Linked DNA regions of Homo sapiens. The protein of the gene in region 6 purifies or fractionates together with the protein of the main gene of each other region. This does not show direct contact. Each region holds a gene or a part of one and is shown on either strand. Other genes may lie near its edges.

The links.
Region 1: the proteins of PRR11 (region 6) and DUSP11 purify together in Homo sapiens (affinity purification with mass spectrometry; 3 studies listed by BioGRID and IntAct, with this or other methods). This does not show direct contact.
Region 2: the proteins of PRR11 (region 6) and DDX31 purify together in Homo sapiens (affinity purification with mass spectrometry; 3 studies listed by BioGRID and IntAct, with this or other methods). This does not show direct contact.
Region 3: the proteins of PRR11 (region 6) and NVL purify together in Homo sapiens (affinity purification with mass spectrometry; 3 studies listed by BioGRID and IntAct, with this or other methods). This does not show direct contact.
Region 4: the proteins of PRR11 (region 6) and MOV10 purify together in Homo sapiens (affinity purification with mass spectrometry; 3 studies listed by BioGRID and IntAct, with this or other methods). This does not show direct contact.
Region 5: the proteins of PRR11 (region 6) and ZBTB11 purify together in Homo sapiens (affinity purification with mass spectrometry; 2 studies listed by BioGRID and IntAct, with this or other methods). This does not show direct contact.
Region 7: the proteins of PRR11 (region 6) and TTF1 purify together in Homo sapiens (affinity purification with mass spectrometry; 3 studies listed by BioGRID and IntAct, with this or other methods). This does not show direct contact.

Annotation. Positions count from the first base shown.
Region 1 is NC_000002.12:73,762,465-73,766,603, reverse strand, and holds part of DUSP11 (RNA/RNP complex-1-interacting phosphatase), read left to right. Parts: intron 1-9; coding exon 10-186; intron 187-3,744; coding exon 3,745-3,943; 3' UTR 3,944-4,139. UniProt on the Homo sapiens protein: Possesses RNA 5'-triphosphatase and diphosphatase activities, but displays a poor protein-tyrosine phosphatase activity. In addition, has phosphatase activity with ATP, ADP and O-methylfluorescein phosphate (in vitro). Binds to RNA.
Region 2 is NC_000009.12:132,624,646-132,628,784, forward strand, and holds part of DDX31 (ATP-dependent DNA helicase DDX31), read right to left. Parts: intron 1,101-4,139; coding exon 1,019-1,100; intron 1-1,018. UniProt on the Homo sapiens protein: May have DNA helicase activity and RNA helicase activity. Probably have ssDNA and RNA dependent ATPase activity. Plays a role in ribosome biogenesis and TP53/p53 regulation through its interaction with NPM1.
Region 3 is NC_000001.11:224,284,939-224,289,077, reverse strand, and holds part of NVL (nuclear valosin-containing protein-like), read left to right. Parts: intron 1-1,084; coding exon 1,085-1,303; intron 1,304-2,947; coding exon 2,948-3,052; intron 3,053-4,139. UniProt on the Homo sapiens protein: Participates in the assembly of the telomerase holoenzyme and effecting of telomerase activity via its interaction with TERT. Involved in both early and late stages of the pre-rRNA processing pathways.
Region 4 is NC_000001.11:112,684,659-112,688,158, reverse strand, and holds part of MOV10 (helicase MOV-10), read right to left. Parts: intron 1,194-3,500; exon of another isoform or gene 1,053-1,193; intron 1-1,052.
Region 5 is NC_000003.12:101,666,839-101,670,977, reverse strand, and holds part of ZBTB11 (zinc finger and BTB domain-containing protein 11), read left to right. Parts: intron 1-4,139. UniProt on the Homo sapiens protein: May be involved in transcriptional regulation.
Region 6 is NC_000017.11:59,158,446-59,162,584, forward strand, and holds part of PRR11 (proline-rich protein 11), read left to right. Parts: intron 1-2,318; exon of another isoform or gene 2,319-2,431; intron 2,432-4,139. UniProt on the Homo sapiens protein: Plays a critical role in cell cycle progression.
Region 7 is NC_000009.12:132,400,095-132,404,233, reverse strand, and holds part of TTF1 (transcription termination factor 1), read left to right. Parts: intron 1-1,405; coding exon of another isoform or gene 1,406-1,412; coding exon 1,413-2,779; intron 2,780-3,975; coding exon 3,976-4,139. UniProt on the Homo sapiens protein: Multifunctional nucleolar protein that terminates ribosomal gene transcription, mediates replication fork arrest and regulates RNA polymerase I transcription on chromatin.

The DNA.
Region 1 (4,139 bases), on a different chromosome or scaffold from region 6:
CTCTTTAAGGAATTGGAATTCCAGTGTACCCAGGTCAAGTGATTTTGAAGACTCAGCACATCTCATGCAACCAGTCCACAATAAGCCTGTTAAACAAGGACCTAGGTATAATCTACATCAGATCCAGGGTCACTCAGCTCCTCGACATTTCCACACCCAGACCCAAAGTTTGCAACAATCAGTCAGGTACCTCTCTCTGTTTTCCCTTTTCTAGAATTGAGATAGAAATTAATACTATAGTTAATGAAAACACATTATGATACTGATGAGGAATTCTTCGTTTTTTTTTTTTTTGGAGACAGAGTCTCGCTCTGTCATCCAGGCTGGAGTACAATGGCGCGATCTCGGCTCACTGCAACCTCCACCTCCCAGGTTCAAGCAATTCTCCTGCCTCAGCCTCCTGAGTAGCTGGGACTACAGGCACCCGCCACCATGCCCAGCTAATTTTTTGTATTTTTAGTAGAGATGGGGTTTCACCATGTTAGACAGGATGGTCTTGATCTCCTGACCCTGTGATCTACCCGCCTCAGCCTCCCAAAGTGCTGGGATTATAGGCGTGAGCCACCGCGCCTGGCCGATAAGGAATTCTTGCTGTTCAGTTTGAACCAGGAGATATTATTCTGCTCTGTATTTTGCATTTAGCACTGGAAAATCAGTTACAGGACAGGGAATATGTGACTTTTCAGAGGCAATTCGGAAAGGGACTTAGAAATTTTGATTGATTTTAAACTTAAGCCAAGAGTTTGATGTGGCTATCAAAAAGGATCTTATATTCTTAGGCTACATTAATGTAGTATAGTTTTTAGAATAAGGAAGATTGTTATTTAAGGAGTTGATATGAATTATAAGAAAAATAATAAAATCCTAATAGAGAAATAGCAAAGGATCTGAACAGATAAAACGACAAAAGTATTTTCACTTGGAAAATGGGGAAGACCTCAGTATGGTTAAAGTGGTACATTAGTATGAGTTCTCCAGAATGATAGAACCAGTAGGATGGATGGATGGATGGATGGATGGATGGATGGATAGATGGATGGGTGGATGGGTGGGTGGATGGGAGGAGGAGCTTTTTTATTCGGGGTATCAGCTTATGCACTTGTGAAAGCTGAGAAGTTTCATAGTAGGCTGTCTGCAAACTGGAGAACCAGGGAAGCTGGTAGCATTCAGTCCAACTCAGAAAGCCTCAGAACCACGGAAGCCAGTGGAGTAACTCTCAATCCAAGGCTGAAGGCCTGGGAATCTGGTAAGGGTTGGAGGACACTGGTATGAGTCCTCAAGTCCAGAGGCCATGAAGCCTGGAGTTCTAATGTCCAAGAGTAGGAGAAGAAGGTAAGGTATTCCAGCTCCAGGAGAGAACACAATTTGCCTTTCCTCTGCCTTTTTGTTGTATCCAGGCCCCCAGCCTATTGGATGGTACCTACGCAAACTGAGGGTGGATCCTCCCACTCAGTCCACCCACTCACACACCAGTATCCTTTGGACACACCCTCACAGACACTCCCAGAAATAATACTTTACCAGCTATCTAGATATCTCTTAACCCAGTCAACTTGACACCTAAAATTAACTATCACAAATAGCAAGCTATTATTCTTGCCTATTAATTTAGCAACAGTTTTGTTTGCTTTTTTTTTGGTGACAGAGTCTCACCCTGTCGCCCAGACTGGAGTGCAGTGGTGCAGTCTTGGCTCACTGCAACCTCCACCTCCCAGGTTCAAGCAGTTCTCCTGCTTCAGCCTCCCGAGTAGCTGGGATTACAGGCACTGCCACCACGCCCAGCTAACTTTTGTATTTTAGTAGAGATGGGGGTTTCACCATGTTGGCCAGGCTGGTCTTGAACTCCTGACCTCAGGTGATCTGCCTGCCTCGGCCTCCCAAAGTGCTGGGATTACAGGCATGAACCACCTCGCCCAGCCAGTTTAGCAACAGTTTTTGATAAGCACTCCATTGTAGTGGTTGTCAGGCTGGACCTGGATTTGCATGTTGGCTTTGTTACTCACCTGCTTTGTGATCTTGGATAAGATACTTAGCCTATCTACATTTCATTTTTCCCATTAGTCAGATAGATATTTTAATAATACATACCCCATAGTGGTTGTTATTGACAGTTAACATGAATTTAAACAGTTTAGCACGTTGTAAACACTTTCAAAAATACATTGCCATTTTTAGGCCAGGTGCATTGGCTCACACCTGTAATCCCAGCACTTAGGGAGGCCAAGGTGGGAGGACTGCTTGGGCCCAGGAATTTGAGACCACCCTGGGCAACATGCTGGAATCCTGTTTTTATTAAAAAAAGAAAAAAGAAACTTTAAAAAAATTGACATTTTTAAAAGATGTAAACAAACATTTCAAAAAACATGTCACTTGCGGCATTGAAAATTGGTATAAGCCTTTTGAAGCACAATTTCAAGAGCCATAAAAATACTTTACCTAGTAATTTCATTCTGAGACTTAAGGAAATACTTCAAAGTACAGAAAAAGCTATATTTACTTAATCATTCAGCACATTTCTCAAACTCCCTTCCATGTGTCAGATGCTGGGCTAGCTCAGGATACAGTAGTATATGTTTTGCAGTGTTAATCCCAGCATTATTTGTGGTTGTGGAAAAACTTGTAGCTGCTATATTTCTAACAGTGGAGAATGTAGCTAAATAATTATATCCATACTATAACATTTTATAAAGCCATTGGAAGTGTTAGCTCATTTATGATAAGTGAAACTAATAGGCTGTGATTCAACAGTCAGAAAAAGATGCTGGGGAAAAGAACAAAAGGAAATACTAACTAATTGAATTATAGTAAGTGGGATTGAGGGCTCTGCAGTGGGGGGTTTTTCTTTTCTCATATTTCCAAAGTTTCTTTATTTTTTTTTGTAAGATGGAGTTTTGCTCTTGTTGCCCGGGCTGGAGTGTAATGGTGTGATCTCAGCTCACCGCAACCTCCACCTCCCGGTTTCAAATGATTCTCCTGCCTCAGCCTCCCCAGTAGCTGGGATTACAGGCTCCCACCACCACACCTGGCTAACTTTGTATTTTTAATAGAGATGGGGTTTCTCCATGTTAGTCAGGCTGGTCTTGAACTCCCGACTTCAGGTGATCCGCCCGCCTTGGCCTCCCAAAGTGCTGGGATTACAAGTGCGAGCCACCACGCCCAGCCCCAAATTTTCTTTTGTATAATTATATGAGATTTTCTGGTCTTGCTTTTGAAACAAGTTAATTTAAATCCTAATTTTTCAAATTTGTTGCATATACCATGCTTAAAGTTTTTCACACTTCATAATTAATTTATGTATGTTCGTTTATAAAGTGGAAGCAGATATCTGTTCTCAGTACTAACTAGCTTATTCTGTCTTATGTCAACCCTGCCAGACTTTGGGAGAGAAAGTATTTGATTAGAATAGTATGGGCATGCATTTATCTCTGTAGGGAAAGGTGGAAAGGCTTCTGGGAATCCACGGTGTGCCAGGGCATTGTAGGTAATTGAAATGTATTTTTTTAATTTAGCTTCATAACAGCTCGTGAAGGTGAAAAGTATTATTAGCCCCATTTTATAAAGAACTTAGGGAAATAACAATTAAGTATTTTATCTGCTTAGGTCACACAGGTAGGAAACAGTAGAATATATATTATTTTGTAAATTTATAAATTTAAAATATTTTATGAAAATATAAATTTAAAATAAATAAAAATTATTGTATTAATCCTAGTAATGGCTTATTACTTTTTGTTTTGCTTTAAGAAAATTTTCAGAGAATCCACATGTTTACCAGAGACACCATCTCCCTCCTCCTGGTCCCCCTGGAGAGGACTATTCACACAGGAGGTATTCTTGGAATGTGAAGCCCAATGCCAGTCGGGCAGCCCAGGATAGAAGAAGGTGGTATCCTTATAATTACTCCAGACTCTCCTATCCAGCCTGTTGGGAATGGACCCAGTGATACAAACCTGTCCTGGAATTCTACCTGGAGACCAGAGCTGGCCTGAAAATTACTGGTGTGACTTTTAATTAGTTCAGGTCTAATCAGGTTTCTTTATTGTTCCCTTATGTATTCAAGCTTAAGGAAAAATTGCATTGCTGTTTACCTCTTTGCTGATAAATTTGCAGTAATTACAGCATTGCAGGAAAAACAATCT
Region 2 (4,139 bases), on a different chromosome or scaffold from region 6:
TTGGGGCCATCACCAACTTCTCGGATTGCTATAAGATTAAATGGGACCGTGCACATAAAGAGTGTAGCACAGTCCTAGGTTGGGAACACACACTTTGCTAATAGAGGCTATGGCTATCTCCTCTCCTGGTATTACATACATTTCCTTAGATGCTCTCTAAAACAAGAGAATTTAAGTCAGGCTCAGTGAAACGGGGTCCCTCCCTGCTCAGGGAGAATAATGATCCAAATACAGGCACATGCTAAAGCATGAAAGAAACTCTTAAGCTTGATCTATCTGGCCCTGATTTTCCAGTTCATCCTCAGGCATACAAAAACAAATGTAAAATATTCAAGTGATTAATATCTCATAGACAAAATTACATACAGCAACACTGCACCCACACACGGGAATACTGAGTAAGGGGGTGGGGTGGGGTGAGGGAATAATGGTCTAGTCGGGTGCAGCCTTAAGAGAAGGAGCAGGAAAGGGTGTCCAGGGCTGCCTGCACCTGCTCAGAATCTCCATATGGAACTGCATGGATAATAAAAATTTTTCTTCTTAATGATCTCAACTTTACTCTTCCTCTGTGGATAGCACACACACATTAAAAAATGGATGAACTAACTGTGTCTGAAAGGAGACACAGAGATACTTATTTCTTCCATGCTGTCTGGGATAGGCAGGTCTAGGCAGCCGTCCTTGCTGAGAATCTGGACAGGGACCACCGGGGCTGAGCGTGTGGCACTGCCTCCAGACTCATTCTGGCCTGGACCTCCTTTCTGGGGAGCCTGCTGCTGTCTGGCAGGCTTCCAGAATGGACCGTAGCCCACTCGCTAGATGAGAGTGGCAAACGCATCCAGAAGCAAAGACGAGGAAAAAAAAAAAACAATCAAGATTTGGCCTCATCTAATGTTCATGGTTCTTAAAATAAATGTATTGCTTGACAGAGGAAGTAACCCATACACAAAGTCTCTACTACCCCAAATCAAGTGAGTCACATCTGTTGGCAGCGAGCACAATAAATAACAAAACTCACCTGGGCTCCCCATCGTTTCCCTTTAAAACAATCATCTCTTGTCAGAACACACAAAATATCTTCCATCTTAATCTCAGAAACGCTGTAAAAGGAAGGGCACAGCAAGGTAACTTTTTGCTCTTTCAAAAACACCCAAGACCTTGATGCACAAAACTGGCCTATTCTTGAGCTAATTAGACATGAAGTAGAAGTGACACCTTCCTAGGAAAGGAAATATTTTCCTAAACCCTTAGGAATTGAGAAGGGGACCTCTATGATATTAAAGGGACAGGATGATATTCCTGACAATTTCTTTCCTCTCTGATGAATTTAAAATAGGCTACATTTAGAATTTCCTTAATAGAGATTATGTCATTATTTCTTAATAAATCTTGAATACCAAATAAGTGTGCCCACTCACTGATCCACTCCCTTGATTTGAGCAGATGATGATGAAATAGAAGCATTTTGGTCTCTTTAGTTTATACTGAAGAGGAAAAAAAAAAAAAAAAGGAAGAAAAGGGTGGCCAAACATCCTCCACTGTGGGGTAAACACCCCTGTGAGGGTAACGAGGGCACAAAGCCCTGTCCCAGCAGCACTGGCCTTTCTTCTTCTACCCTGGAGGAGCTTCACTCCCCCATCTCTTAATTACTGATGGGTGAAGACCAAAGGATCTCTAACGAAGCCGGAGCTGTGTGCCAAGCACTGAGACAAGAGCTTGGGCTTCACTCAGGAACAGAAGCCACAAGGAGCCAGAACACAACAGTCAGACCTGCCTAGCAGTGGAGTCTGGAAAGCCTCCGCTTCATCCAATCAACTGCAAGGCCACAGCATTTGAATGTAGGGAGCAAAGAGAGACTTGCGTGTCAGAGATGAAGGAAGAAACGTGAGCTGCTGAAAGGATACTTCCCAGGGAGAAAGAGAAACAGAAAGAGAAGAAGGAGTTCTGAGGGGGAAACAGATCATAAGAAGACAAATGATTTTGTTGTATGCTCTTTTTTTTTTTTGAAAATGTAACAGCAAATTAAAACATGAATGGCAACCTCTTAGGTGGGAGAAGACAATTCTCCCCCTTTCACCCAAAGGTTACTCTGACAAGGCTATGAATGAAAATGCCACGTCTCTGACAGCGATTTACCTGAAATGTGTCATCTCCCTGCACACCCCCAGCCCTCACCCCTCAGCATCCTCTCTCTGCTGCCAACTCACAGCCCTATGGATGAGTGAAGCCTTTTTACAGCAGCAAAGAGTCAACCAGAGGAGGCAGAGCATGCTCTGAAAGGGCAGGAGTCAGAGGGAGAGTGCCCTGACTTCATGGGAAATCTATTTTTCATAGGAGAGAGCAATGCATGGGTATTGAACTCGCCTCTCATTTGTGCCTGGCACCCCGAGGGAAGGTGAAAACAGAGCCCAGTCCCATCTTTTTCTTGGTCTGATTTGCTTCTATTCATCACTTTTTTCTTGAGAAAAAAAGAGGAAAAACACAAAAATAAAAGAAATGCAAGAATTTGGAGTCAAATCTTGAAGCAGAAAGAAAAGAGTAATGCCGTTTGCAGTCAGGAACAGAAAAAGCTAAATATGCCACAGAACAGTAAGGCAGTGTTCTCAAATGCGTGTGCTGATATTCCAGCCAGAGTGTGGCTCATATGCTGTGTCCACATGGCGACGTCGGGGAACCACACACCCTAAGCAAACAGGAGCTGAGAGGGAACGGGAGTGATTTACAGTTTAAAAGGGCCTTCTTCCTCTTCCTAAGAAACTGCTGCTTCTGAGGAACAAAGCAAATCTACTATGATTATTTATGGGTCCATCAACAGATCTGAATCACCTCACCTTAGTATGAAACGAGATGGATAAATAAATAAATTCAGGGAACTGTCTTATGCCTGATCTAAGAAATACACATTTTGATGAAGCATTTACATTTTAATAAACCAATGATGATTTTCATTAGAAACACATTTAAAGGGGAGGCAGAAAAAAGTTAAGAAGTTGACAAATACAAAGAAGTCAAAAGAATGCAGAAGCAAAGTTCTGAGCATCTAGACAGAGGTGGCAATGGCCCAGGAACCTGTCTCTTGCCCTGTCTGCTCCATTCAACTGCTAGGGCGAGCACCGCAGTGCTCGATCTAGGAAGGCGGGCAGCCATTTGTCGTGCTGGCCCTTGCTGCCGAGAGCCTCGGCCTGCCTTCTCCAATCTGCCCTGTGGTGCCTCAGCCCTCCCAACGCCCCTCTGCCTGGCTCTCATGTTCTCAGGCACGAAACATGCACATGCTTCCTCCTCAAAAAATATTTAGGAGTCGACCTTTTGGATTCTAGAAACTTTCCAGTCTGCTTCTTCCCACTGCGCACTTTGCAACTAGTTAATAGGGGTTTTGTTGTTGTCGTTGTTGCTGTTTTGCATTAAGTCAAAGAAACAGTTCATGTATAGATACAGCCAATGTAGGGCCTTTCCTCAAACAGAAATTGGGAAGAACAATGCATGACTGCAACGTAATAACCCAGATTCTGATGTCTGTTTAAGTTGATTACAGTGCACCCACGAGGCAGCAGCAGTCCAGGCCCAGGCCCCTCACAAGTGAGTTTTCAGAGCCGACGCCAGTGAAGTGGGGCTCATGCAAGGACCCTCCCTCCTCACGCAAATGCTCTTCCACCACCCTGCAGAGTTCCTCCCCAAAAGACCTACTTCCTCCTTTCAGAAGAGGTGGCGTTATCACTGAGTTGTCTCCTTTCTAATGCGGGATTAAAAAGGGAGTCACGTAAATGCGGGCACACTATTTTTTCCAGACAAGATCATCACAGCAGATGATGGTATTTGTTATGTCTTTAAAATATACCTGACTCCCTAATACTTCGTGCCTTTGCTAATCACTGTTTTCCCTTCTCAATTTTAGCTTTATATCTGAGCCCTTCATAGCAATCTACTTGAATGTGTTATTAGAGAAAAATGAAGAGAGCAGAGAGAGGCACCTCTGCTGTTAACTCTGGCATTAGACAATTATCATTGGGCTCTGCAACTGCTGTCACTCATTTTTCTTAGGAAGAGGTCATGTTAAAGTGAACGAGCATGGGGGAACATCCAGAGAGCTGCGGCCAGGAAGGAATGGGAAAATGGAATTTGTAGCTCTAGAATGGAAGGAA
Region 3 (4,139 bases), on a different chromosome or scaffold from region 6:
GTTTACAGTCTAAACCTTTACAGAAAAAGGTTGTCAACCCCTATTTCAGCATTGGCATTTAATTATATCTCCTGGTTAACTTTTGGTTAGGTAGATTACAGTGGTCTGTTGACACAACTATATCCATGTCGGTAGCTGCAAACAGCTCTGGAGGACAGTCATGTGAATAATAGGGGACAGTTATCAGTCCAAGATCGGTATTAAATTTTTTAGTTTTATGAGTCATGAAAATTCAATATATATATCATTTCATATAGCATTTTATAGCTTGCACAGATGGCTTCTGTATGTTATATAATTTGATCCCTGTAACCTTATATAAATGTCATTTTCCCCATTTTATAATCAAAGGCACTAAGCTTAAGTGGTTGTGATTTCCTCAAGCCCATACAGCCTCTACTTTATAGAGCAGGGGCTTCAATCCAGATCTTTTGTTCTCAGATAATTTGTTTTTTTCTTAGACATTTGAAACTGCAATTAATTCTGTAAAAAATAACAAACTCATTCCTTTTATAATATTGCATATAAATTAATATTTTATAAATTGAATTAATTGGTTACCTGTTTTTTAGACTTATCCTTTCATCTTCTCCACAAAGCAAGAAATCTGCCTTTTAAGTTTAAGATTTGATAGTAATAGGAAAATTGCCTTCCCTCTACTTAGTTGATAAACCATCAAGGAACCATATTAATGAATTATACTACCTCCAGCATAAGTGTTTTAATTTCATCAGGATTCAACTGTTTCTTGAATATTTATAAATGAAACATGGGAAATATTATGGTTGCTGAAATGAATATTTGCCAACGCTTATATTTGCTATACCTAGCCCTAGTATATAGAAGTCATTCTTATATGTTTAATTATAATTATAATTGGTATATCTTTACTTGACCAGAGCATATGATCCTTAAGAATAAAATGAACTTGTCTCATGTCAGAGAGAAAATTATTAAAATACATAGACGTTCAGGATAGCTTACGGAAATATTACAGTAATAATTTTTACAAGTAGAAAATGTAACTTTTCAATAGCTGTTGTGGTGTTTCTTTATTTTTTTCCCCTCTATTGTTCCCTTCAAGGATGAATTACAAAGGCTGCTGGGGTTGCTAAGAGACCAAGATCCCCTCTCAGAGGAGCAGATGCAAGGACTGTGCATTGAACTGAATGATTTCATTGTTGCTCTATCCTCAGTCCAACCCTCTGCCAAAAGGGAAGGCTTTGTCACTGTCCCTAATGTGACATGGGCAGATATTGGTGCCCTGGAAGACATTAGAGAGGAGCTCACCATGGCAATATTGGTAGGTATATCAGCTGCCAAATATTATTGGCATGTCATGGATTAAAGACCAGAGATAAAGCTCCATGCATGTGTACTAGGTTCTGTGGCTAAACTGACTTGACTATAATCACTGTGTCTAACTTGACTTGAATGTAGCACTTCTTTCAAGCCCCCAACAATGGTTTTTCTTTTGTTTGAGATCCGATTTGTTTATTTTTTTAAATTGATGTATCATAGTTGTAAATATTTTTGGGATACATGTGATATTTTGATACATATATTAAATGTGTATTGATGAAGTCAGGGTAATTGGGATATTCATCACCTCTAATGTTTATGTTTTCTTTGTGTTGGGAACATTATACTTTTTTTCTTCTAGCTGTTTTGAAATATACTTTTTTCTTCTAGCTGTTTTGAAATATAATTTCCCTACCGTGCTATCAAATACCAGAACTTATTACTCCTATCTAACTATTTTTTTTACCCGTTAACCAACTTCTCTTCATTATACTCATCTCCACCTTCCCTTCCCAGCCTCTGGTAACCATCAATTTGCTCTCTGTCTCCATGAGATCCACTTTATTAGCTCCCACTATGAGTGAGAATGTGCAATATTTGCCTTTCTGTGCCTAGTTTATTTCACTAACATAATGACCTCTAGTTCCATCCATGTTGCTGCAAATGACAGGATTTCATTCATTTTTGTGGCTGAATAATATTCCATTGAGACCTATTTTATGCTGATCCTTTTGGTTGTGCTTCATTTCTGTAGCAGTGAGTTTAAACCACAAAAAATTATAGGTTTCAGTTAAGACCAAATTGTTTGACAAAGACTTTCTGAACTTGATCTTATGGATCAAGGCAATTTTAATGCACATAAAACTTTGGATTAATTTTTATTTACTTTACTTTTCTACTCATCATTCCATGGTTCATTAATGGAAATATGATCGATTTAGAGGTATGTACTACTGAAAGAGAAAATACACTGGGATTATAGTCAACAGATATCTCTGGCTTTTAACTATGCAAAAGTTACTGCTGCATCTGATTTCTTAGAGGAGACCATTGTCTAAACATTTTATAACCTAGAAATTTAAATGGTTTTCTAAAACATATTTGTTGAAATATTATATCATTATGTCTAAAATGTTCTTAGACATTATGTTCAAGTATAAATTCCTCAAGTGCAGGGACTTTTCTCTTTATCACCACAGAGCATGAACAGGTAAACCAGGTACTGTTCGTATCTTCAGGCCTCACAGTCATGTTGAAAATAAGCCTGAGAAGCTGGGCGCAGTGGCTCATGCCTGTAATCCCAGCACTTTGGGAGGCTGAGGCAGGTGGATCACCTGAGGTCAGGAGTTCAAGACCAGCCTGGCCAACATGGTGAAACCCCGACTCTACTAAAAATACAAAAATTAGCCAGACGTGGTGGCATGTGCCTGTAGTCCCAGCTACTCACGAGGCTAAGGTGGGAGGATTGCTTGAACCCAGGAGGCAGAAGTTGCAGTGAGCCAAGATAGCACCACTGCACTCTAGCTGGGTGACAGAGGGAGACTCAAAAAAAAAAAAAAACCATAAAATATGTATCTGGAAATAATTTGAACCTGCAGTATAAAATGGACATGTAATGGATCGCCGTTTGTATCATTATTTCCAGGCACCAGTACGCAACCCAGACCAGTTCAAAGCTCTTGGATTGGTGACTCCAGCTGGGGTCCTCCTTGCTGGTCCTCCTGGCTGTGGGAAGACTCTGCTGGCGAAGGTATCATATAAGTTCAATTGCATGTAATTTATTTCTTAGTATCAGATAGGATAATATGAACTTAACTTTAAATATTACAGTGAGGTAAGTCTTATGCATAATTTTTATCAGAAGTTTATTTTAGCAAAACTGACAACTTTCTTCATTAAAGTTTCCTACTTTTTTAAATTACAAAGGCACATGATTGAAAAATGTTTATATCAACCATAATCCTATCAATTTTAACATGCAATTATTATATTTTCTGTGTATTACATTTTAGCTTTTTAGTGAGTATTATTCCATAGTTTTAGTTTTTACTTGACTTAGTTTCCTGCTTTGGTATTGTTATTATTTATAACTTAAGTATTTTCCTCTATATTTCTTGTAATTATTTTCTAAAATTGTTTTTTCATAATAGAAAATAAAAATAAGCAAAAAGGAAAAGCATTGTGTGTAATTCTCTCACTGCCACCTACTACTATTATTTCATTTCATTGTCAATCCTTCAGATATTTTTCTATGCATACATATCAAAGTAATATCTAACTTTTAAGTTTTTACATGCATGTTTACAAATATAAGCTTTTTTTATTTTATTTTATTATTTTTGAGACGGAGTCTCATTCTGTCGCCCAGGCTGGAGTACAGTGGCATGATCTTGGCTCACTGCAACTTCCGCCTCCCGAGTTCAATCAATTCTCTTGCCTCAGCCTCCCGAGTAGCTGGGGTTACAGGCATACGCCACCACGCCCGGCTAATTTTTGTATTTTTAGTAGAGATGGGGTTTCACCATGTTGGTTAGGCTGGTCTCGAACTCCTGACCTCATGATCCGCCCATCTCGGCCTCCCAAAGTGCTGGGATTACAGGCGTGAGCCACCACCCCCAGCCACAAATATAAGCTTTTTTAAACATGTTTTTCTCACTTAGCTGTATTTCCTGAACATCTTCACGTCAGTATATATTGATACACATCAATATTTTTAATGCCTGCATAATATTCTACCATAAAGATAGATGTTCTATAATTTATGGAAATGATCCCATATTGAAACAACACTACTTTAAATGGCCTTGCACTTATATTTTTGTACCTTGACTAATAAT
Region 4 (3,500 bases), on a different chromosome or scaffold from region 6:
CGAGGAGCACACAGACTGAACATATACATTCCAGCGTGGTGCTTGGAGGGCAGCTCATCGGCCACAGAGGGGCTCAGTGCCACAGAGGGACACTGAGCCCAGTCTGGGGGCAGAGGAGGTGTCCATGAAGGCCTTCCCAGGAGGCAGCATAAGAACTGAGTCCTGAGGATGAGTGGGCATTACCTGGGCACAAGAGGGAGCGCGAAGTGTAAGCAGATGTGAGAGGTACGCAAGAACATGTGCAGGGAGGGGCAGAGGGGGGCGGCCCACTTGACAACTCTAGCCAGGTCAGCTCAGTTGACCTCACCTCTCAGAGCCTCGCTTTCCTCCTCTATAAAATTGGAGGAAAGCGAGACTTACCTCGTAGGGTTGCTGTGAGGTTTACATGAGATTTTGACACGGCAGAGAACCACTTAGCACAGTGCTTGGCACATAGGAGACCTCAGTAAGGGTGAGCCATGATTAGTATCACATACAGTTTCATTGTGCTAGAGTGAAATGCACAAGGAAGGGAGTGGCAGGAGGAGCAGAGGTGGGCAGGGACCAGATCATGGACAGTTTTGCACAACAGGCCAAGCCTGGACTTGACTCTGCATGTCTGCAGTCGTTTTCCCCGCTCTACTGATACCCAGGAGCCTGAGGACATTCCCACGTGCCACATACTTCAGGGACATATTCAAGATCTAGATGACTGACACCCTCCCTTAAAAGCAAATCTTTGTTTATGAGGACTATGGTAATTCCTATTTAACTCTTCAGGCTAAATCATCATGGTCACTCACTAGGGTATGTGATAAGATCATTTATGGTTATGAGTATTTTTCAGGTGCCTGCTGCCTGTAACTCTGCCCCTCTCCTTCACCCCAAGCAAATGAGACTGGTACAATTTGGAAAACATTGAATTGGCTATGATTTGTTTTAAAAAGGTAATAAATCATTCAAAAGCATAATAGAAAATGCTCAGTAAATGTTAGCTACTATTGTTAGTATTTATATTAGTAGAAATAGTAGTACTAATAGTAGCAGTAGTAGTAGGAGTAGTAACAACTTACTTTCAGCCCACGTCAGAGGCTACACTGTGGTTACAGAACCACTGCGGTTGGTGGGTTTTAAGCAGGGGAGTGGCAAGATCATATTTGCATTTCAGATCACTCTGGCATCAGGATTGGAGGATGGATTTGCTGGAGGCAAGACTGTAGGCAGGGAGACCAGTTAGAAGAAGGCCCTTGCAATTGTCCAGTTAAAAGATAACAAAGGCCTGAGCAAGGCAGTGGGTAGAGATACAGAAGAAGAGCGGCAAGATTCGCTAATACTTAGAATGTAAAATTAGCAGAAATTTGGTGACTGACAGAAGGGGGAATGAAGGCTGGGAAGAGGGATGAGTCTAGGATCCCCAAATCAATGGCCTGGCTTCTAGGACTATCTCTGAGATAGGATGTAAGACAAGAGGAGGAGGGGTTGGAGGGACTGACCATGACATTTGGATTTGGATATGATGCGTTTGAGATTCCTGTGGTCCAGAGGCAACCAGCTCCACGAGTCAGAAGCTGAGAACTCAGGCCAAAGTCAAGGTTACAGCCTAGTATTAGGGAGTCCCCAGGTAGTGGTTATAATCAAGGAAGTGTAGGAATCTCCCCAGGGAGTGTGAGTAGTTGAGAGCAGCTACTAGCACAACCCGGGGAGGAAGGGAAAACAAGAAACCCTCAAGAGAGAAAGGAGAATCAGCAAAGTCTCAAAATCAGGTATCAGGATCAAAAGCTGCTGAGGGGTCCAGTAATACAGGGACTGAAATCAGGAGATCATCAGTAACTTTCACAAGGGCTTCTTAGAGTCCATCAAAGTCCCATGGATCGAGGCACAAGCTAATGCCTACAGCAGCTATGCTTCACAGGTATCTTGATCCTTGCAGCCCTTTCAGACACCTGTTCAGTCCATTTTTGAGAGTCACTAGTGTAAGAATACTGCATGCATATCCCTCACAACGCTAAGAAAACAAAGTGCAACCTCCAAGAAAAGTGGCTCCAGGCTCCCAGATCAATGCTGGGCAGAAAGAGGGCTTTGTGGGGACTGAACAAACTGGGAAGTGCATGCCCTGTCTGAAGCAGGTAACTGCTTATCTTCGAACGGGGCCAGTAGGGAATGCAGGCCCCGGATGGCCAGATCTGACTTTCAAGAAAAGACAAAATCAAAATTTTAACATGAAACCTCCTATTTTTGAAAACCTGCATGGCACAAGGGCAGACAGAACTCATCTCTGTAAAATTTCCAAATTCTACTGCAGATGCTATCCCTAAATATTTCTCAAATTATTCTCTATGTCTCTCATCACTACCCAAATTCACCTAACATTGGTCTAGGTAACAGTCATACAAAAATTATTTTTAAAAAATCACAAACTTATTATATTCTTGTCGGAAAAAAGCCCCAATCCTTGTATTATACATGTAATCCTCTATATTTATTTTATTTTATATTTTATTTTATTTTATTTTATTTTATTTTATTGAGACGGAATCTTGCTCTATCACCAGGCTGGAGGGCAGTGGCACGATCTTGGCTCACTGCAACCTCTGCCTCCCGGGTTCAAGTGAGTCTCCTGCCTCAGCCTCCTAAGTAGCTGGGACTACAGGTGCACGCCACCACACCCAGCTAATTTTTCTATTTTTAGTAGAGACAGAATTTCACCATGTTAGCCAGGATGGTCTCAATCTCTTGACCTCCTGATCTGCCCGCCTCGGCCTCCCAAAGTGCTGGGATTACAGGTGTGAGCCACCGTGCCCGGCCGTAATCCCCTATATTTCTAAGAAAAACTTTCTAACCAAGACTGGAAACCAGCAGCTATAAAATAAAACTAGGTCAAGTGTGGTGGCTCATGCCTGTAATCCCAACACTTTGGGAAGCTGAGGTGGTAGGACTGCTTGAGCCCAGGAGTTTGAGACCAGCCTGGGCAATAGTGAAAAAAAAAAAAAAAAAAAGCCAGGCATGGTGGTGCACACCTGTAGTCCCAGCTACTCAGGAGGCTGAGGCAGAAGGATCACTTGAGCCCAGGAGGTCAAGGCTGCAGTGAGCTGTGATTACGCCACTGCACTCCAGCTTGGTTAACAGAGCTTGGGTAACCCTGTCTCTAAAAAAGAAAACAAACATTTCTGACTACTAAAAAATATTTTCTCTAGCAAAAGGTAATATAAACACATTCAACAGATAAATACCAGATAAATACTCATAATGCAGATGACAGGCAAAGGGCTAATTTTTATAATATATAAATTTTCTTACAAATTGACAAGATGAACAATTCAACAGAAAAATCGAATATTCAATTAAAAGAACAGATCCAGATGGCCAAAAGAGTATGAAAAACTGCTCCAAATGTAGAGAAATGCAAATTAAAGTATAAATGAGATATTATTTTATTCCCATTAGACTGACAAAAATGAACATAGTTCTAGCATATATTACTATAATGGGTATGTGGAAAAGTGAACTCATAAATTGCTGGT
Region 5 (4,139 bases), on a different chromosome or scaffold from region 6:
AGATTTCTGTGGTAGAGTTATGGAAAAGGGTGTCATTTCCTTTCACTACGTCTTAAGTGAGACAATTATAGCAGAAAAAGAATTTCTAGGATTTAAACTGTTAAAAACAGTTTGAGTGAAATCCATAAGTGCAACAAAATTATTACATTAAATGAATATGTTATTTAAAAATTGATTGTTTAAGCTAGGTGTGGTGGTGCCCGCCTGTAGTCCCACCTACTTGGGAGGCTGGGATGTGAGGATCTGCTTAAGGTCAGGAGTTCCAGGCTGTGGTGTGTCATTGTACCTGTGAATACCCACTGCTCTCCAGACGGGGCAATATAACAAGACCCTGCCTCTAAAAATAAAAAGCAAATAAAAATTGACTGTTTATGTCTTATTTTGTGGGACATGTAATTATAGAGTATTTTATAAGTCTTTTGGTTTTTAAAGATTAATCCTTAGAGTTTATTAAGTTCAATAATCAAATTATCAATATAGAAAAGTCAAAATCCCAGGTTTGTTTTTTGTTTGTATCATTATTGTAAATAAATAGTTCAACTTTCTTTTGGCTTCACTAGAATTTATATATTGGCTTATGAGTCATCAAATGAAAATTTAGGAAGAATTATAGGTAGCATTATTTATACGTTTTCTCATCATATAAAACTTGCTGTAACTTTTGAATTACTTAAATCACTTTGAAATATTTTTTCCTTTTTGAAACAAAAAAGTGACTTTTCCAGGTATGTAAATTCTTAATTATTTAACCACTTATCCTTTTATGCTTTATTGTTTTTAGTCCTACCTCTTCTGGGAAGATACATTTTTCCTTAGCAGTGGCTTTATGTTTATAGAAAGCAATAATAACGGCCAGGCGCAGTGGCTCCTGCCTGTAATCCCAGCACTTTGGGAGGCTGAGGCAGGCGGATCACCTGAGGTCATGGGTTTGAGACCAGCCTGATCAACATGGAGAAACCCTGTCTCTACTAAAAATGCAAAATTAGTTGGGCACGGTGGCGCATGCCTGTAATCCCAGCTACTCGGGAGGCTGAGGCAGGAGAATCGCTTGAACCTGGGAGGTGGACGTTGCGGTGAGCTGAGATCACACCATTGCACTCCAGCCTGGGTGACAAGAGCAAAACTCCGTCTCAAAAAAAAAAAAAAAGCACTAATAGCTTTCTCTATATAAATAAATATTTATTAAGCATCCACTGCATACAAAGAACTAGCCTAGGCTCAGGGGGTGTACATATGAGCAAAAACTTTTTGGAGCTTAGAGTTGGCATTACATTCTAGATTAGTGGTATTTTTTTTTTCTGGGTTTGGTGACTCAAAGGAGAAAATACGTCTTACACTGAGCCATCTGAATATAAAAACCCATCACAGGTTATTCTTTTGATATGTTTGCTTTGGAATTTTTTCCCTATATTTCATGCATCTGAAAGCATGAGTGTTGCTCTTTTCTGGTTTCTCAGCAGTTTATAGCAAATGAAATGTCTGCCTGAAAAAAACTATGGCACAGCATCCTAATATTCCAACATAATACATCATTTAGTCTTCATTCCATATGCATATTTTTGTATATTGTTCAGCAAGTATTATGTAAGCCAATCATAGGTGAAATAGGCATTATTTTAAAAATATGTTTGATTTAAATATTAAGTAGATAAGGCTGGGCACAGTGGCTCACGCCAGTAATCCCAAAGCTTTGAGGCAGGTGGATTGCTTGAGCTCAGAAGTTCGAGACCATCCCGGACAACATGGTGAAACCCTGTGGCTACCAAAATTTACAAAAATTAGCCAGGCATGGTGTCACATGCCTGTAGTCCCAGCTACTTTGGAGGCTGAGGTAGGAGGATCACTTGATCCCAGGAGGCGGAGGTTGCAGTGAGCTGAGACCACACCACTGCACTCCAGCCTGGGCAACAGAGCAAGACCCTGTCTTAGCCACAAAAAAAAATTTTATCATAAGTGTGTCATTTACGGTATCTTAGTCTGCCGTACCCCTGGATTTTGAAGTCCTCACCATAATTTTTCCTTCTGTTATAATTGTCCATTTCATTTGAGAGGATATTTTTATAAAGTTTTCAAATTGTAAAAAAAAAACAAAATTTGCCCTCTTAATGATTTTTCCCTTTTATTTATTTTCAGATAGTCCCTGAAACAGAATAGGCTCAGAGAGGCTCGCTCCTTTTATTTTTAGTTGACATGTAATAGTTGTACATATTTATGGTGTACAAAATGATATTTTGGTACATGTATACAATTAGTAATGATCAAATGAGGGTAATTAGGATATACCTATCACCTCAAACATTCACCTTTCTTTGTGTTGAAAACATTCAAAATTCTTTCAGCCCTTTTTTTTTTTTTTTGACAGAATCTTATTCTGTCACCCTAGGCTAGAGTGCAGTGGTGCAGTCATAGGCTCAAGCAACTTTTGGGCTCAAGCAATTTTCCTGCTTTGGCCTCCCGTGTAGGTGGGACCACAGGTGCACACCACCTTGTCCAACTAATTTTTTCATTTGTTTATAGAGATGGAGTCTCACTTTGTTGCCCAGGCTGGCCTTGAACTCCTGGACTCCTCCTGCCTCACCCTCTCAAAGCACTGATATTACAGGGGGTGAGCCACTGTGCCAGGCTTCTTGTAGCTTTTTTAACATATACCATAAACTGTTGTTAACTATATACCTTGCGGTGCTATAGAACACTAGAAGTTGTTCCTTCTATCTATCTAGCTGTAATTTTGTATCTATTAATCAACCTCCTCCTATACTCCCCTCCTGTCACCCTGCCCATCTTCTAATAACCATAGCTCTTCTCTCTACTTGTATGATCTAAGTTTTTTTTTTTTAGCTCCCCCATATGAGTGAGGACATTTGGTATTTATCTTTCTGTCCTTGACTTACTTAGCATGATGTCCTCCAGGTTTATCATGTTGCTGCAAATGACAGGATTTCATTCTTTTTTATGGCTGAATAGTATTCCACTGTGCATATTTACCACATTTTTTCCATTCATCTGTTGATGAACATGTAGGTTGATTTCATTTCTTGGCTATTGTGAGTAGTGCTGCAGTAAACGTGGGGTGCAGGTATCTCTTTGATATAATTTCTTTTCTTTGGGTAGATACCCAGTAGTGGGATTGCTGGATCATATAGTAGTTATATTTTTAGTTTTTTGAGGCACTTCTATAGTGTTTTTCATCCTGGTGTACTAATTTACATTTCTACCAACAAATGGGAGGCAGAGGTTGCAGTGAGCCAAGATCACGCCATTGCACTCCAGCCTGGGCAACAAGAGCGAAACTCCGTCTCAAACAAACAAAAAAAAAGAATTAGCTTTCCTAGGAATGGCTGAATTCACCATAATGATAATGTTGGTGGGGAGTCCCCTCAGTTTTTTTCAGCCTGAGTCCTAACATCTCACAAGTTTAAGGCTTCTCTGTATGTTTGTTCATCCTTCGTGGGTTCTTTTGCATAAAATACCACACTTTACATACCTTGAGTCAGAACTGAAAATTACAGCAAATATGGCTCTCAATTGTATATTTAAAAATCTCTAAGATAAATTATTGTATTAGAAAAGCAAAGTGCAGAAAAGTATGTGTAATATGACACCTAGTGTGAGAAGGCGGAATTAGAATATTTGCCTCCGTCTAGGTGTAGTGGCTCACACCTGTAATCCAAGGACTTTGAGATGCCAAGGCAGGAGTATCCCTTCAGGCCAGGAGGTCAAGATCAGCTGAGACAACATGGGGAGACCTCCATCTCTTCAAAATATAAAAATAACCAGGTGCACGCCTGCCCTGCTACTTAGGTGGCTGAAGCAGAAGGACTGCTTGAGCCTGGGAGGTCAAGGTTACAGTGAGCTGTGGTCAATCCACTGCGCTTCAGCCTGGATGACAGAGCAAGGGCCTGTCTCAAAGTACCTAAATAAAAAAGAAAGCCGAGTGCGGTGGCTCACGCCTGTAATCCCAGCACTTTTGGGAGGCCGAGGCAGGCTTATCACAAGGTCAAGAGATAGAGACCATCCTGGCCAATATGGTGAAACCCCGTCTCTACTAAAAATACAAAAATTAGCTGGGCATGGTGGCGTGTGCCTGTAGTCGCACCTACTCCGGAGGCTGAGACAGGAGAATTGCTTGAACCTGGGAG
Region 6 (4,139 bases):
TTTCCATGTTTATGTTAGAAAACAAAAGCTAAAGTATCTAAGAGTAAAGTATCATGATGTCTGCAACTAAATCTATTCAATCCAAAACTAAAAAAATTTATGTATGTATATATTTGTACATACGTACAGAAAGAGTGTGTGTACAAAGACGGCAATTGACAATTGGTAAATCTAGGTGAACTGTATATGAGTGCTTATTATACTATTGTAAATTTTTTATTTCCTGGAGCCTTGAAATTTTTCTAAGTAAAAACAGTAAAGGAAAATAGACAATAGTGAAAGACAAAAATGAAAAAAGTGAAGGCAACTGAAGTTAGAGGACAGAACGGAGGGGGATGGTAAGGAGAAGAGACAGGGTAAATTAATCAGAGAAATATTTCTGATTCATACTCACATTGGCCCACACCCAGGTGTGGTGTGCACCCAGTGCAGTGGCGTGATCTTGGCTCACTGCAACCTCCACCTCCTAGATTCAAGTGATTCTAATGCCTCAGCCTCCCGCGTAGCTGGGATTACAGCACACTCCACCACACCTGGCTAATTTTTCTATTTTCAGTAGAGACAGGGTTTCACCCTGTTGGTCAGGCTGGTCTCGAACTCCTGACCTCAGGTGATCCACCCACCTCAGTCTCCCAAAGTGCTGGGATTACAGGTGTGAGCCACCGCACCCAGCCTCCCACACCCTCTTTTTTTATAACCCTCTACTCCAATAGGAGCTCCATTGTCTCTGCATTCTTTTCACCTTCCTGGCCATGCCTTTTCTAGTTCTTTCTCTACCCACTCCTTATACATGGTGTTTCTCAAAGTTTGGTAATCAGCTCATAGATCTTTTCACTCCACATATTTCTCTGGGTAATTTCACTCATTTCTAGTGTTGTTATTTTCTCAAGCTACCTATACACTTATGAGTGCAGTATTTCTCTAGTGTCTTTCCCCTGAACTTCTGACTTTGAACATAGAACATAAGCAGTTAGATGTATTTAGATACCCTACTGTCGCTCCTATAATCAGGTCCTCATCCCCTAGACAGTTGCAGTAGGTTTGTAAGTGGTCTCTTTGTCTTCAGTCATGGTCCCATAAATCCAATTTCCACGATGCTGCCAAACCATTCTTTCTAAAGAAGAAATACGAGCATGACAATTATCTGCTTAAAATCCATTATTGTTTCTGATGTCTTGGTCCTTATCCACCCTCCAGCTTCATCACTCATTGCCCCCTGACAAAACTTTACGTTGCAGGATATGCTTTAGTCACACTGAGTCTTGTCTGAATCCCCTGACATACCTTTCTCTGAAATGTTTCCATGTTATTCCCTCTGATGGGATGAGTCCTCCCTAGGCCCACCTTAACCTAGCCCCTTCATCAAAGCTCAGCTTAGGCAAAACCTTTTCCAAAAACCTCAACCCTTATGGGAGAATTATGTACCCTTGCTTTATTTCTCCATTAATATCATATACATATCCCATCATAACCCATACACTATTGTATACCTGTTTACTTTCTGCTTACCCATCTCTCCCCACTGTAAACTCTTGGAGGGCAGGAATGTGTCTTATTCATTTTCATAGCAAGTTATCACTATATGTTGTTGAATTAAACTTGTATTTTAAAAAATCTGATATAGTAATCTCAAGCAGCAAAAAAAAAAGAATCAAAGAATAATAATGATAATAATGATAAAACTTATTGCCTGCCAGGCACTGTAAATACTTTACATGATTTACTCATGTACTCCTCAAAACTCTGAAGTAAGTTCCTATTAATATTATTATTTCACAGGGGAGGAAACTGACACAGAAAGGCTAAGAATCTCTTGAAGGTCATAAATAAGTTATGACAGTATAGTAGAGCCATGATTTGAACCTATGCAGTATAACTCCCTGGTCCTCATCCTTAACCCCTACAGTATACTTCCTCTTGTTGTTTGTTTGTTTGGTTGGTTGGTTTCGGTTTTGGTTTGGGGGTTTTTTCTTAGACTGAACCTCATTCCAATTTTTATATTTTTAGTAGAAATGGGGTTTCACTGTGTTTGCCAGTCTGGTCTCGAACTTGACCTCAAGTGATCCATCCACCCACCTTGGCCTCCCAAAGTGCTGGAATTACAGGCGTGAGCCACCATGCACGGCCTATAATATGACCTTTATTATTGTTTGATTTGTTATCAAGAGCTCCAGATGTACCAGTTTGCTGGTTCCTTAGCCTAGAAATCTTTTCTTAATGAAAAGAAGATGTAAGTAAAAATGAGAGTAATTTCTAGAGATCATAGAGTTATTTAGGATATTTATGTTGTTTTTTTCTTTTTTTTGGAAACAGTTTCTCGCTCTGTGTTCCAGGCTGGAGTACAGTGGCGCAGTCATGGGTCACTGCAGCCTCAAGCTCCTGTGCTCACGTGAGCCTCCCGCCTCACCCTTCAGAGTGGCTAGGACTATAGGTGAGCCACCACGCCAGGATTTTTTTTTTTTCTTTTTTTCATACAGTTGGGACTCTCACTGTGTTGCCCAGAGTGGTCTCAAACTCCTGGGCTAAAGGCATCCTCCCACCTCCACCTCAGCCTCCCAAAGTGCTGGGGATTACAGCACTTTGAACCACCGCCCTTTGCCTATATGTTTATGTTTCTAATGATTTTTCAGATTATTTGAGAAAGCAGTGTAAGAAAAAAACTAGTTTAAAAAATACATAGGCCAGGCATGGTGGCTCATGCCTATAATCCTAGTACTTTGGGAGGCCGAGGGAGGCGGATAACCTGAGGTCAGCAGTTCAAGACCAGCCAGGCCAACATGGCGAAACCCCATCTCTACTAAAAATACAAAAATTAGCTGGGCGTGGTAGTGTGTGCCTGTAGTCCCAGCTACTCGGGAGACTGAGGCAGGAGAATCGCTTGAACTCGGGAGGCAGAGGTTGCAGTGAACCGAGATCATGCCACTGCACTCCAGCCTGGCCAGGCAACAGAGCGAGACTCCGTCTCAAAAAAAAAAAAACAAAAACATAAAACAAAAAAAAAAACACACACACAAAACATAAGGGCCGAGTACAGTGGCTCACACCTGTAATTTCACCACTCTGGGAGGCCAAGGCCAGTAAATTGCTTGAGCTCAGGAGTTTGAGACCACCTAGGCAACATGGTGAAACCCTGTCTCAACTAAAAATAAAAAAACCAGCTGGGCATGGTGGTACGCCCTTGTAGTTCCAACTACTCAGGAGGCTGAGGCAGGAGGATTGCTTGAGTCCAGGAGGTCAAAGCTGCAGAGAGCTGAGATCACACCACTGCAATCCAGCGTGGGCAACAGAGCAAGAACCTGTCTCAAAACAAAAGGAAAAATGCTTTAAGGAATCACAAAAGAATGAGCTTCTATTCAGTGTTAACAATTAAAATCCCACCTAATCCAGCAAAAAGAATTTGTAGGTCTCATTATGCTTTTGGAAAGGGGATAAGTATACGTATTTTAAGCTAAAGGAAGACTGCTATATACTCTTTCAATTTGGGCAATTATCCTCTGGAAAGTACCTAATGCTTTTAATTAAGTAATGATACTAAAACAAACCTTAATTTTTTGTGTTCTTGTTTTGACTGAGGTAGAAATTTGCTATTCTCCACTTTCGCAAGAGCTGTGATTATTTTTGGATGGAACAACTAACTATCTAGGAATTATCTCAGACTGCATCTTTCTACCCTGACAGATTTTGCATGGTTCCTTAATCCTCTGCATGTGCCAATTACTGTATTTAATTAGAAGGAGATTAGATAGAAGCACTAATAACCCAAGTCAGACACACACACACACACACACACACACACACACACACAGAGAGAGAGAGAGAGAGAGAAAGAAATATGACTTAGTTCCTAGACATCTTTATCATTGAAAAATAATTCCCAAAATGACAGACATTGGCTTGTGTAGGACTCTAGAAATTTGTATGCATAGACACTGGAACAGCCAACAGGAAAGGACTAGAAAGAAATGGCCCTGTTTCAGAATGGTGGTACTCAAATTTTCCAGCTAATGGTACATACCAAAGTTTGAAAGTCAAATACAATACAAGCCTTATTAGAATTAGAAAGAAATAACAAAAAAAAATAGCAGTCCAGTTTAAACCACCCCTCTGTAATCCTGACTCCCAATTGTCAGAGGCAACAC
Region 7 (4,139 bases), on a different chromosome or scaffold from region 6:
CTCCAGGATCTATGTTGTTAGGTGAAAATAGCAAATGCAGATCACAATATATAGATGTTAACCTTCTGTGTAAAAAAGGAGAGGAAATATGAAGATCATTTTTATTTTTGTACGACGTAAATGTGTCATTTAGCCAAAGATAAATCTAAAAAAATGAAACCCAGAAGCAATACAGAGCAAAGAGAACAATAAGACATGTTTGCAAAATTATATTTTTAATCATCTCTTTTGGAAAGTGCATTTATATTTCTGTATTTTAATTCCAAGTGCACACACCCTGTATGTGAGTATTAACGTTAGTGGCTTGTGAAATTTATTCCAGTGTATCGCAGAACGTCCGCTCTTTGTTGGACACTAACAAGGCATATCCAACTTCTTTCACAAAGAGGCCAACTTCTGGTTTGAGGTCAGTGGATACCTGATATCCCCACTGCGAAGCCCTTTTGTGGATCCTGCACTCGAATGGAGTCTAATGGCTTCTCCATGGTACAAACACAGAGGGGAACAAGACAGATAAACCATCTTTTTCTTCCTTGTTTTCTTTTTTCTTTGTCTTTTTTTTTTAAAGCAGAGAAGACAGCCTGTAAATGACTAAATAAATGTTTCTTTTTTAAATATGAAAGTATATTACTTGGGAATCAGGCCAAGCCCAAGGAATCAGGGAAAACTTTTTGAAGAACTGATCTTCAAACCAAGCTCTGAAGGATGGCAGGAGGCAAGGAGGGTGGGGAGGCTGTGGAGAGAATTTCATGGAGAGCTGGGGGGGAAAGGTTATGGCACGTTTGAGGAAGCAAAACAAGCTGCTTTTGGCTTAAACGCAGAGTTGGAAAGACGAGTTCAGAGGTGAGGCTGTGGGGGACAGGGGCCTTATGGTGCAAGGCACTGTTGTTCTCTGTTAACTCTTTTTTTCTCTATCATAAAGGCAGTGGGACCAGACAGAGAGAATTCCAGTGAGCCACCTGTGTATCTAGAATAATCTGAAATTTGTAATCATGACTACAGGCTTGTCATTTGTCATACAATTTCATTTTGCTGTGATTTTTTCCGCTGAGGCTATGTTTAAAATGCAAAAATAGGCCAGGCACGGTGGCTGACGCCTGTAATCCCAGCACTTTGGGAGGCTGGAGTGGGCGGATCATGAGGTCAGGAGATCGAGACCATCCTGGCTAACACAGTGAAACCCCATCTCTACTGAAAATACAAAAACAAAATTAGCTGGGCGTGCTGGTGGGTGCCTGTAGTCCCAGCTATTCGGGAGGCTGAGGCGGGAAAATGGCATGAGCCCAGGAGGCGGAGCTTGCAGTGAGCCGAGATCGCGCCACTGCACTCCAGCCTGGGCGACAGAGTGAGACTCCGTCTCAAAAAAAAAGCAAAAATAAACCATTGTTGTCACATTTCCATATAGGAATAAAATGGAAGGAGAATCAAGCAGATTTGAAATCCACACTCCAGTTTCTGACAAGAAAAAGAAAAAGTGTTCTATACATAAGGAAAGACCTCAGAAACATTCCCACGAAATTTTCAGAGACTCCTCCCTGGTGAATGAACAGTCTCAAATAACTAGGAGGAAAAAGAGGAAAAAAGATTTCCAGCATCTCATTTCTTCTCCTTTGAAAAAATCCAGAATCTGTGATGAGACTGCAAATGCCACTTCCACACTCAAAAAGAGAAAAAAGAGAAGATATAGTGCTTTGGAGGTGGACGAGGAAGCAGGTGTTACAGTTGTCCTTGTGGATAAAGAAAATATTAACAACACACCAAAGCATTTTAGAAAGGATGTTGATGTTGTTTGTGTTGATATGAGCATAGAACAGAAGTTACCAAGAAAGCCTAAAACAGACAAATTTCAGGTACTTGCTAAGTCACATGCACATAAATCAGAAGCCCTGCACAGTAAAGTTAGGGAGAAAAAGAATAAAAAGCATCAGAGGAAAGCTGCATCCTGGGAGAGCCAGCGGGCAAGGGACACCCTGCCTCAGTCAGAATCCCACCAGGAGGAGTCCTGGCTTTCTGTGGGTCCAGGGGGTGAAATTACAGAACTACCAGCATCTGCTCATAAAAACAAGTCTAAGAAAAAAAAGAAAAAGTCCAGTAACCGGGAATATGAGACACTGGCCATGCCTGAAGGATCGCAAGCAGGCAGAGAGGCCGGGACTGATATGCAGGAATCCCAGCCTACTGTGGGCTTGGATGATGAAACTCCACAACTACTAGGACCTACTCACAAAAAAAAGTCTAAGAAAAAAAAGAAGAAAAAGTCCAATCACCAGGAATTTGAGGCATTGGCCATGCCTGAAGGATCACAAGTGGGCAGTGAGGTTGGGGCTGATATGCAGGAATCCCGGCCTGCTGTGGGCCTGCATGGTGAAACTGCAGGAATACCAGCACCTGCTTATAAAAACAAGTCTAAGAAAAAAAAGAAAAAGTCCAATCACCAGGAATTTGAGGCAGTGGCCATGCCTGAGAGCCTCGAGAGTGCATACCCTGAAGGATCACAGGTGGGCAGTGAGGTTGGGACTGTGGAAGGCAGTACAGCTCTTAAAGGGTTCAAGGAATCCAACAGTACAAAGAAGAAGTCTAAGAAAAGGAAGCTTACGTCTGTCAAAAGGGCACGAGTGTCTGGTGATGATTTTTCAGTGCCCAGTAAGAACTCTGAGAGCACACTCTTTGATTCAGTAGAAGGTGATGGCGCCATGATGGAAGAAGGTGTGAAATCTAGGCCCCGACAAAAGAAAACCCAGGCCTGTTTGGCAAGCAAGCACGTGCAAGAGGCGCCAAGGTAACGAGGGAGTGGTATTCCAGCTGCTGGTATATTTCTTTCGTATGGATTCTGCCGATACCTCTTTATTTAGCACAGACTTTTTTTTATTTTTAATTTTATTTTTATTTATTTATTTATTTATTTTTGAGGTGGAGATTTGCTCTTATTGTCCAGGCTGGAGTGCAATGGTGCAATCTCGGCTTACCGCACCCTCCACTTCCCGGGTTCAAGCGATTCCCCAGCCTCAGCCTCCTGAGTAGCTGAGATTACCGGCATGCACCATGCCTGGCTAATTTTGTATTTTTAGTAGAGACGACGTTTGTCCTTGTTAGTCAGGCTGGTCTCGAACTCCTGACCTCAGGTGATCCGCCTGCCTCAGCCTCCCAAAGTGCTGGGATTACAGGCGTGAACCACCGTGCCTACCCTTAGCACATACATATTAAATGGCAAAAATCATCAAGAGGTAGACCCTCATTGTACAGAATATCGTACATCTTTAATTGTGTAAACTTGGCAGGTAGTTTAATTTCTTCATGTGTGAAATAAGACAGATTCGATTTTCACTAAGAACTATTCCAGCCCTAGAAAATCTATGAGTAAATTTAAAAGCCCAAATTACCTTTGAAAAATATAAAAGCCCAAATTACCTTTGAAAAATAGTCTGAGCAAATAACCAGTGGAAATGGGGCTTAGGGCTGCACTTTTAGCTTCTAGGCTCCCTCTGAGATATATCCAAGTAATTCAAGTTCCAGTAAAAAGTTTGAAAATCACAGACTGAGTCAACTCCAAGATCTCATCTTGCTTTAATATTCTAGTAGCCTAAGTGAGAGCCATTTTAAGAAAAGTTTAAGGCCAGGCGTGGTGGCTCATGCCTGTAATCCCAGCACTTTGGGAGGCCAAGGTGGGTGAGTCACTTGAGGCCAGGAGTTCGAGACCAGCCTAGCCAACATGGCGAAACCCTGTCTCTACTAAAAATACAAAAGTTAGCCGGGCGTGGTGGCGCGTACCTGTAGTCCCAGCTACTCTGGAGGCTGAGGCAGGAGAATCGCTTGAACCGGGAGGCAGAAGTTGCAGTGAGCTGAGATCGCACCATTGCACTCCAGCCTGGCGACAGAGCAAGCCTCTGTCTCACGAAAAAAAAGAAGGAAAAATTTTAAAGTTATGAGGTCAAGTGATGTGTTAATGTTAGTCAACCCAATTTTCTAACCCCTTAGGTTAGAACCTGCAAATGAAGAACACAATGTGGAAACAGCTGAAGATTCCGAAATAAGATACTTATCTGCAGATTCAGGAGATGCCGATGATTCAGATGCGGATTTGGGTTCTGCCGTGAAACAGCTTCAGGAGTTCATTCCTAACATCAAGGACAGGGCCACCA